Linked DNA regions of Homo sapiens. The protein of the gene in region 3 purifies or fractionates together with the protein of the main gene of each other region. This does not show direct contact. Each region holds a gene or a part of one and is shown on either strand. Other genes may lie near its edges. The genes, in order: IL37, CLCC1 and AMTN.

Region 1 (2,766 bases), on a different chromosome or scaffold from region 3:
TTACTCAAATAAGTAGCACTTAGCCTGAGCAAAGAAAATGTCTGGCGTATAAAAAGGACTTTTTATAATCATTGTTTTTCTTAACTCTCTTTTTTGCACCCTCTGACTGGAGGCATCATTCCCTCAGCAGTGCCTAGAGTGGAACAGATCCCTGCACTGGCCAGGCTAAGGGAGCGGTGATGGAAGAGTTGGGAGGGTTGGAGGCAGGAAGCCCCCAGGAGCCCAGCACGGTGCAAGGCTGAGCTGGAGCTTTAGTGGCTCCTTTGAAAAGCCACAAATCTTGCACCTGGCCCTGGAGGAACAACTTCTAGCAGCAGGACCAGCCACAACAGTGCTCAGAGGGTTCTTAGGGCGTGGGCTCCTAGCAACTCATTTGGGCCAGGCCTGCCTAGAGTAGGGTCTTAAAAGGGAACGTTCCCTCCTGGCCTCTGATTGGACAGGTGACCCTCACCTCTGCAAAGAGCTCAGGCACTTGTTTGATAAAGAACAGGGGCCCCCAGGCTGGGCCAGTGACTGTCAAGAATGGGTGGGTGGCTGGAAAATGGCAAATGTGACAATATGAAAACACAGTAACCACCACACTATGTGAAGCTATAATATGGGTATCTGTGGTAGGCAATTCTAATGTAGAGAATAAGTCTAAGGTGTCATTCTTTTCCCATGCCATAAGCACATGGCCTCTGCCTGGGTTTCTCACTGTAGAATGTCCTCCTGGTCTCCTCATGCCCAAAGAGTGGGGAGGACTCCTCCTGTAACACCGGCTTTCCTGTCATCTCCCTGCAGCCCTCCTCAGCCCCCTCTGCACAGGGTAGCTTCCTCTCTGGTGCTGCAGCGCTCTGCACTCGTCAGTGGTACCTGCACACAGGTATTGGCATCCTTGGCTCGCTGCCCTATAGCACTGTAAGCTCCCCAGGAGCAGGCTTCCTATCTGACTCACCCGTGATCCTCCACCTCCCACCCTGTAGTGCCCCAAGCATCGTGGACACTCTCAGTGTCTATGGAAGAGATGACTGGCCCCAGGCAAGATCCTAAGTAACTCCCCAGTGATATGGGGTCAGATGAGATCCATGGTTATCAGCCCTGCCTTACATCAGAATCTCCTCAGGAGCTTTTCTGGGCCCATCCCAGGCAGTCTGAGTTCATGGAGCAGGTGCAGGTTGACTGAGAGTCACCGAGCTAGCTGAACTCTAAGCTTTTCCATTTCCCACACTTTAATGTGCAAGAAATCACCTGCAAACTATGGTTCAGTAGGTGTGGGTGGTGCCAAGCCTCTGTCTTTCTGATGCACTCCCAGAGCTGTGGGTGCTGCTGGTCTGAAGACACCCTTTGAGTGGCATGGCCTAAGGCTGTGACTCTCACCCCTGGTGCACACTGGGAATCACCTGGTGGGTGGCATTTTAAGACCATGGATACCTGGGCCTCACACTCCTGAGATTCTCATTCAGTTAGTCCAGGGTGAGACTGGAAAATGCTCTTTTTAAGAAGCTACTTTTCTAGCACCATCATTTTACTTTGTACCTCTTAAGCGCTTCTTAAAGCTGTTCTTTCCTTTGGTTTCTGTTTCCCTCCTATCACAGCCTGACATAGGATCTCAGCGTCTCACATGCAGACTAGTTCACTATCCTCTTAAGTGGTGTTCTCGCTCATGATCCTTGACCCCAAATCTTTCTCAAGGCCACTCTGAAGGTGTGAGTGGTCTTAAGGTGCTGGCAGTTGTTTTCTATAGGGAAGTTGTACTCCAACAGCAGCAGTAACATCAGTGCCAGCGCCAGCTTTAGGGCACTAGTAACTTTCTGTAGGGCAGTAGCTCTCAGACTTTCAAGGTGCGTCACGATAACCTGGAAGTCTTGTTAAAGCAGCCCCTAGAGCCTCAGCGCCCTGAGTTTCTGAGGCAGGAGGTCTGTGGTGGGGCCTGGGAATGTGTATTCCTAACACTTCTAGGCGCTGATGCTGCTGACGTTTGAGGACCAGACTTGGAGAACCACTTCCGCCAGATTTGAAGGAGATCCCAGCCCTGACAAGGAGAAGTCAGGACAGGCCCGACAGAGAGGCTTGTGTGCGTGGTTCCACCTGGAGTGGACACAGTGCAGATCCAAAGCCAGCAATGGTGTAACTACAACAAAACTAAAACATCAAAGGTAACTGCAGCAGCAGCGGTGGAGAAGTGACAGCAGCCTCCCCCAACTGTGCCAGGCACCCTTACACACCTGGTCCCATTTGGTCCTCTCTGCCATTGTACTAGTGAGGCTCAGTATTCCCACATGAACCTGCACTAGAGCTGGGGCTCAGGCTGAGGCCTCCTGACTCTGTCCTGAGAAGAGGAGGTGATGGGAGCCTTAAGCCTGAGTCAGGCAGACAGACGTTATAGTACCTTTAAATTTCCACATCTGTCACTTATTACCTGTGTCACCTAGGGCAGGGAATCTCCACTGTCTGTCTCGGTTTCCACACCTGAACAGTGGCAATGTTAACAGTTTCCTATTAGGGTGTTGTGGTGTTCAAATGGCAGCATGAGAGGAAGGTTCAGGCTCTGAAGGCGCCGCCCTGAGCCCTTAGTGGTGTGGGTGTCCCTGCACCCCCACTGGCCCCATGGCTGTTTGTCCTCAGTGCTGGGAGGAGGTCTGTGTCTCCAGTCTCTTGGCTATGGTCAGAAGAGGCACCTGGAAGGTTCCCAGGCACAAACTCTTCCTTGCCCTGTGCCTCTTAGCAGGTGAGCATCACCTGCCCCTCCCCGGGCTCATCTTTCCCAGAGTTATCTCCTAATGG
Region 2 (3,657 bases), on a different chromosome or scaffold from region 3:
ATACTCTAAATTACCTACATGATAATTTTTAAATGTATCCACATAGCTTTATTCTTTTTTTTTTCTTCCTTGTTTTTGAGACAGACCTCACTCTGTGGTCCAGGCTGGAGTGCAGCAGCGCAATCTTGGCTCACTGCAACCTCTCAGGTTCAAGCAATTCTCCTGCCTCAGCCTGCTGAGTAGCTGGGACTACAGGTGCACGTCACCAGGCCCAGCTAATTTTTGTATTTTTAGTAGAGACAGGGTTTCACCATGTTGGCCAGGCTAGTCTTGACCTCCTGACCAAGTGATCTGCCCACCTCAGCCTCCCAAAATGCTGGGATTACAGGCATGAGCCACCACACCCAACCCACCTGGCTTTATTCTGACTTAGATGCCCAAATGTTAACATTAACTGGGTTATGAAAATTAGGACTGAACTTTTTTACCCACTAACTGGTCAAGGAATCAAAAAACTGTCAGCTAAGAAGTGTCCATTTAATTCCTCTCCAGCGTGGGCCACCTCTAATCACTGCCTCCAACCCACATCCAAGGCAAGATTGCTCTCAATGGATTAGAGTCTTCTTTCATTGTGAATAAATGTGTTAAAATTGTAAAACCCTCCATCCATATAATACCTTATATAAATACATCCAATTCCATCCCAAACTGAACAGAAAGCTGATGATTAAAACACGTCTCAACTGAGTGTACCAACGTACATATGTCCACAGCTCAGTAGCCACTAAAACCACGATGCAGAGCAGACAAAGAAGTACCTTAAAACAGAGAGAAGCAGAAATCAGCCACCAAAAACACTTAAGACAGCTAAAAAGAACTGGACTCAAAAGCACAAAATCATTTCTACAATTTTGTGGCTTGTTCATCAATACGGTATAAGTGACCTAGTACAGGTTCTTAACGTAATTATGGTGGAGTTTGGAAAGTATTTTAAAAAGGAAACTTAATGACGTTGCCCTTGCCCTCATCCCATCTTACCATTAACACATTATATGGATCCACTCCAAAGGAATCTTCGAATCGCCACTTCCATGTTTCAAAATCATGAAACTTAAAATTAATTAAAATATCACTTAGTGCATCATCCAAGGCACCTGGTTTCCAGTCTTCTCCATTGAGAAACTTCTGTATTTCTAACAAAGTTTCTCTTTTAAGGATAATCTCAGCATCATAATGCATATCGCCTTTGTTTTCATCAGGCTAAATTAAATTTACCAAAAAACAAACAATAGAAAGAGAATTTTATTACTACTTGGTGAACCATTTTAAGACAAAAGCCAATTTGGAACTAAATATTAGTTTGCAGTATTTCATATGTATAAGAATAATAGCCTGGGCAAGGTAGCTCACACCTATAATCCTAGTGCTTTGACAGGCCAAGGTGGGAGGATAGCTTGAAGCCAGGACTTCAAGACCAGCCTGGGCAACAAAGCGAGACCCCATCTCTACAAAAAATTCTAACCATTAGCTGTGTGCAGTGGTGTGCACCTGGCTCCTGCCTACTCAGCAGGCTGAGGCAGAAGAATTGTCTGTGCCCCGGATTCGAGGCTGCAGTAAGCTATGAGCATACCACTGCACTCCAGCATGGGAGACAGAGTAAGACCCTGTCTCTAAAAAAAAAAAATAATAATAATATCCACCTGTCTTCACAGGCCAACATGAAAACCAAAGATAATATACATGAAAAACATTTAAAAATTCTAGAACTCTATGTAAAAAAGATACTGTAAATTTCACTAAAATACAGTTGATTCTTGCTATTCGCAGTAGTTATCGTCTTTTTTTTTTTTTAGATGGAGTCTCACTCTGTCGCCCAGGCTGGAGTGCAGTGACGCAATCTCTGCTCACTGCAAGCTCCACCTCCTGGGTTCACGCCATTCTCCTGCCTCAGCCTCCCATGTAGCTGGGACTACAGGTGCCCGCCACTACGCCTGGCTAATTTTTTCTATTTTTAGTAGAGACGGGGTTTCACCGCATTAGCCAGGATGGTCTCGATCTCCTGACCTCATGATCCGCCCGCCATGGCCTCCCAAAGTGCTGGGATTACAGGCGTGAGCCACTGCACCCGGCCTCACAGTAGTTATCTTCTATAAAGTCACCTCAAACACCAATTAGCAAGTACTGAACCATTACTCCTATAATAAATACAGGGTTTGGTTCGTGCAAACCTGTCATAACATTTTTATCAATTGATCAATATATAACCTTGTTTTATGTGTGTTTCTGTACATTCCTGTTTAAGGACACCTTATTTAAAATACATATTGTTCATTCACTAACACTGAACACATGGACAACTGTCCTATACCTTACGCTTGACTGAAGCCTATCTAATACACACCTTTTCCTTTTCTCTGTAAGTACATCGTGGCCTTCTTGCACTTAGAAACACTAGACCTCAGCTCAGCACTACATCAGAGGGCCGTTTTAAACAACGAAATGATGCTGTTTAATGATTGGTCTCAAAATAAAAATAAAAAAAATCACCCCTCTCCCCTCAAAAAAGCACGAAAAAATATACCACTAAATAGACCACAAAAAAAGACACTTGTTTGCAGTACGAGAGCTGAAACAAGAAAACAGTTTTGATTGCCTTGTTCCATCTCAGCTGGGAATGCCTGCAACAGGCAACCCAAATTTTTTACCACTCTTCACTGTGTCCCAGAGTAACCACAGAACACCTCGATTATTGACTTTGGGGTTACACAGACTTAATGAGGTCAATTCATAAATACGGAATCTGTGAAGAATGAGGATCAACTGTGCATCTTCATTTTATGATTCACTGCATGACTTTTCATTTCCTGACAGTTTTCAGATAGCCTAAAATCTGTATTAGTGCAAACAAGAAAAACAAGAAGGATCTCAAAGAGCAACAAAATAATGGGTTTCCATAAATTACATATTTATAACTACCTTTATTAGTGTGAGTTCAGCTTAGCAAAATCACTAAACAAATTTTGCATTAATTAGCCAGTTGATACAAATAAAATTCCTTTTTCTTTTATAAACAGTAAATACAAGGTGGGACATGGTGGCTCACACCTGTAATCCCAGCACTTTGGGAGGCCGAGGCGGTCAGATCACTTGAGGTCAGGAGTTTGAGACCAGCCTGGCTAACATGGTGAAATCCTGTCTCTACTGAAAACACAAAAATATTAGCCAGACGTGGCCGGGCGCGGTGGCTCATGCCTATAATCCCAGCACTTTGGGAGGCATGAGGCAGGCGGATCACGAGGTCAGGAGATCAAGACCATCCTGGCTAACACGGTGAAACCCTGTCTCTACTGAAAATACAAAAAATTAGCCGGGCATGGTGGCGGGTGCCTGTAGTCCCAGCTACTCAGGAGGCTGAGGCAGGAGAATGGTGTAAACCTGGGAGGCGGAGCTTGCAGTGAGCGGAGATTGCGCCACTGCACTCCAGCCTGGGTGACAGAGCAAGACTCTGTCTCAAAAAAAAAAAAAAATCAGAAACTAAATATTTTCCAGCATTTCCATCTTAAGTATTTTTGGTTCCATCTGTTTCCTTATCTAGGTTCTGTTCCACCCTGTACGTAGCTGTAAGGCTCAAATTACAGAGTGTACGTATGAGAACGCATCTGCTTCTACATTTCCAGAATAAGGTGGCGTTATTCATCTAACACTCCTTTTTCTTTT
Region 3 (3,657 bases):
GTCCATTAAACATATATTCTAGAGAAGTTGTGAGGTAGCATGGTCAGTTCTCTGGGTATGTTTATGAATTTTCATTAAGAACCAGATTGTCAAATACTGGTCTATGTTCAGCAGAACATTCGTCAGTTAATAATCTGGGCAAAATTTTCAAGAAGCTTTAAAAAATTTCTACTGTAGGCTTTCACCTGAGAGAAAATGCTCTCTAATGTTAAAACTAAGGTCCAGCTGTTCAACTTACATGTGGGTGCAGTTGCTGTTGTACATTCAACCCTCCCAGGGTCAATGGGTGGGTCTGGGTACCAGGTGTCATTCCTGCAGCAGGATTTAACTGTAGGGCAAGGAAGAAGACTTTCATTGTATTTTTTTTCAGTTTGGACATTTAGGAAACTAAAATGTTTTTACTAAACGTAAAATATATTTAAAGGAAGGAGTTGCTATGTAAATACATAGTGTTCTATTGCATGTATACTTAGACACAAAGATGAAATTTAAAGACTTATTTAGTCTGCTTGTACGACTACAAGGGCTATTGCTAACTTTTCCCCTGTTAAGTTTTTCTTTGGCATTTAACCTATTCTGTTTGAGAATTACTTAAGTGATTTATTTTTATCTTTGCTTTCCCCTTTTGGCTACAAGAGCAATTCTTCCTGAAAATTTTCTGATAGCTTTTTTACAATTAAGAAATTAACTCCTCTAGGTTATGCGTGAAAATTATGAGGTTCAGACTACATATTTTGTCTGGAACATGAGCTATATTTAAATTTGACCACTAAAAAAATCCACTTTAACTCAGGAAAGAAACTTATTGTTCTTCTCAAACAGATTACACAGATATTCTATGAGAGGGCTGAAGATCTATACAGATATTCTATAAGAAGACACTGAAGATCTTTGTCTCTTCCAGTTTGCTCCTGTCATTGTGGGTGATAATAGCAGTGATAGTGTTTATGTGGATGTGTGGATGCTGTAGGGGCATTAAAGAAGGTATGGTGGAGGAATGGAGAGAGGAGGAGAAGAGGTTAGAGAAACTGGAGAAGGAAAGAATTAGATTAATTTGTTTAGAGACTCTCTTGCTAAGAAAAACGTTTAATGATGTCCAACTCTCTTGGACTCTTCTCTCCTCTCTTTCAACTTATCTATGTGAATAAGTATATGTGTGTTTTCATTTGTGGATATACGCACCCATATACATGCTCCCCCCACTGTAATATTAGGCATTATATTTATTTCACAATGGGTATTAAAATAATATAAACAATCACTTACCAGATGCAGATCTGGCCCCAGTGTGAGCATCTGTGTTAATGGTATCAGACTTAAAGAAGGAAAGACCTGCAGGGGATTGAAAGTGATGTATGAGACAAGAGGTTGTCTGCTTCCCTTACTCTGTCAGTGGTGGATATCCTCATGTAATTGACAGTCCTGTCAGAGGTGGGTTTACCATGAAGGTAAATAAAGATGAAGCCTCGGGGCCTCTCACTAGCATTGCTCCCTTTGTGGCCCTGGGAGGTGCCCTAGCAATGTCTCAAGCTTACGGTACTTATCAGCTTAAGAAAATTTGTGATTTACTGTTATTTCTTATCACATTATAAATATTTATTTCAGTACTTAATTTTACATATCGAATTTTGTATTCTTTTTCTTAAAGAAGGTTCCCAAATTGTATAAGATTCAGATTCCTTAAGCGGGGAGAATGGGTCTTGACTTGAGTGTTCTGTTGACTGAGGAGAAGACTTTAGACTCTAGTGTTATCTGATTATATTACTTCACAAAATGTAGAAGTAGGTAAGCCATGGCCCTTCACAGCAGAGGAAGAGTTGAAGTGGGAGGGAGGGCAGTAGCCAAAAGATAATGCAGTTTTCAAAAGTATTTAAATACGCTTTGAAGAAACAGATTGAACAGCAACACATCAACACATCAGCAACAATGAAACTTTACAAAGCCAGGAGGAAATCTGCAGTTATTTTTTATAGATCATCTCTGATTCCCTGCTATTGCTGGCAAATACTGCATATGATAATGCCACAGTACCTCAAGTCCATAGATGACCAAGCTTTGTAAACAGACGTAGGTATTCCTTTTCAAAGTTGACTAGATTTCACTGCTAAACCAAATTATTATTCAGATAAAAGGAAAAAGAATTAGAGTACTTTACTTTTCCTATTCAAATTTTTCAGAAAATTATATCGGTTCTTTTCCCCACTCCCAAACGAAAAGCCTCTCTCTTGTTCAGTCTTGTACAGTCTTCATGTAAATTTTGATTTTAAACCTACCAGTCTTAACGTGTTTTCTTTACCGGTTTGTACATGTTCCGTATTTTCTTTACCGGTTTGTACATGTTCCATATTGTAGGACTCTTACCTGATTTGACTGCTGTTGGTTTGGTAGTGTTCCCTGATCCGGAGCCAGTTTTGTGGGAGGGAGTCCCAAAGCAGGTTTGAGCTGCTTTTGTGAAAACAAATACATATTTGATGAGGCAGGAATGTGTTTAAGATTTTGTGTCCATTTATATCCAGGTTGCCACCAATGCAAACATGTCTATCTTTTAGGCTTTGTGTATTTTAGAGGAGTTTGATTCCCTGAAACATTATGTGCATGGTAGGACATGTAGAGTGGAAAAATGCCAGCCCAGGAGGGGTGGGATGGTGTGGAGGGAAGGGGGCTGGGATGAACCCAAGCAGATGGGATGTCTTGTGGTGGTTCCTGGCTCCCATTTCTTTTCTGTACCTTTCTTTCTCTTTTGCCAGGACATGAATATATAATCTGTACCTTAGCTCTGTGCACATTTGCTTTTTCTCAGGGCTTGAGGTAAGCTGCCGTCATTCTTACTACCTTTTCATGAAGCTTCCCACTATTGCCATGCCTGCCACATCGGTCTTGTAACAGAAGTTCAGTTTTTCTTCCTGGCCTGGATATTTTATTAGTGTATTAAAAATCACTGAATTTTTAGATATGAAAATATTCCTCCTACACATTTGGTCTAGTTGTATTATTTTTTTCTAATAGATGAGGCAACTGATGCTTACAGTAACTTGCCCAAGGTGACATGGTGAGCAGCAGAGCCAGTGCTAGATCCCTCTAAGTGCTCTTAGTCTCCGAAAAAAAAACTTCTCTTTTGCCAGGTTGACCAAATCTGCTTTTGCTCCTGGAGGCATCCTGGAAGGCACAGGGGTGTGGCCCTCTGGCTCTGCACCAGCCCTTGAGTCATCTAAGGTTACCCTGGAGCAGTTTTGGTTTCACGCTGGAATTTCCCCCTTAGTTATGAGGAGAGGTTGGGGCTGGGCACGGTGGCTCATGCCACCGTGTAATCCCAGCACTTTGGGAGGCCAAGGCGGGCGGACCACTTGAGGTCAGGAGTTCAGGACCAGCCTGGCTAACATGATGAAACTCTGTCTTTACTAAAAATATAAAAATTAGCTGAGCATGGTGGTGCACGCTTATAGTCCCAGCTACTCGGGAGGTTGAGGAAGGAGAATCACTTGAACCCGGGAGCCAGAGGTTGCAGAGTGAGACTCTGTCTCACAAAAAAAAAAAAAAAAAAAAAAAAAAAAAAAAAAAAGAGAGGTTGGTATTATCTGTTCTAGGAGGTCCCTTTCAGCTTTAAGATTATATATACATATATATACATAAAATACATATATATAATATATATAAATT

What was found.
Region 1: the proteins of AMTN (region 3) and IL37 purify together in Homo sapiens (affinity purification with mass spectrometry; one large-scale study listed by BioGRID and IntAct). This does not show direct contact.
Region 2: the proteins of AMTN (region 3) and CLCC1 purify together in Homo sapiens (affinity purification with mass spectrometry; one large-scale study listed by BioGRID and IntAct). This does not show direct contact.

The regions. Positions count from the first base shown.
Region 1 is NC_000002.12:112,914,012-112,916,777, reverse strand, and holds part of IL37 (interleukin-37), read right to left. Parts: intron 1,586-2,766; coding exon of another isoform or gene 1,519-1,585; intron 1-1,518. UniProt on the Homo sapiens protein: Immune regulatory cytokine that acts as a suppressor of innate inflammatory and immune responses involved in curbing excessive inflammation.
Region 2 is NC_000001.11:108,942,858-108,946,514, forward strand, and holds part of CLCC1 (chloride channel CLIC-like protein 1 isoform 1 precursor), read right to left. Parts: intron 1,201-3,657; coding exon 979-1,200; intron 759-978; coding exon 618-758; intron 1-617. UniProt on the Homo sapiens protein: Anion-selective channel with Ca(2+)-dependent and voltage-independent gating. Permeable to small monovalent anions with selectivity for bromide > chloride > nitrate > fluoride.
Region 3 is NC_000004.12:70,521,543-70,525,199, reverse strand, and holds part of AMTN (amelotin isoform 1 precursor), read right to left. Parts: intron 2,446-3,657; coding exon 2,362-2,445; intron 1,333-2,361; coding exon 1,267-1,332; intron 329-1,266; coding exon 239-328; intron 1-238. UniProt on the Homo sapiens protein: Is a promoter of calcium phosphate mineralization, playing a critical role in the formation of the compact, mineralized, aprismatic enamel surface layer during the maturation stage of amelogenesis.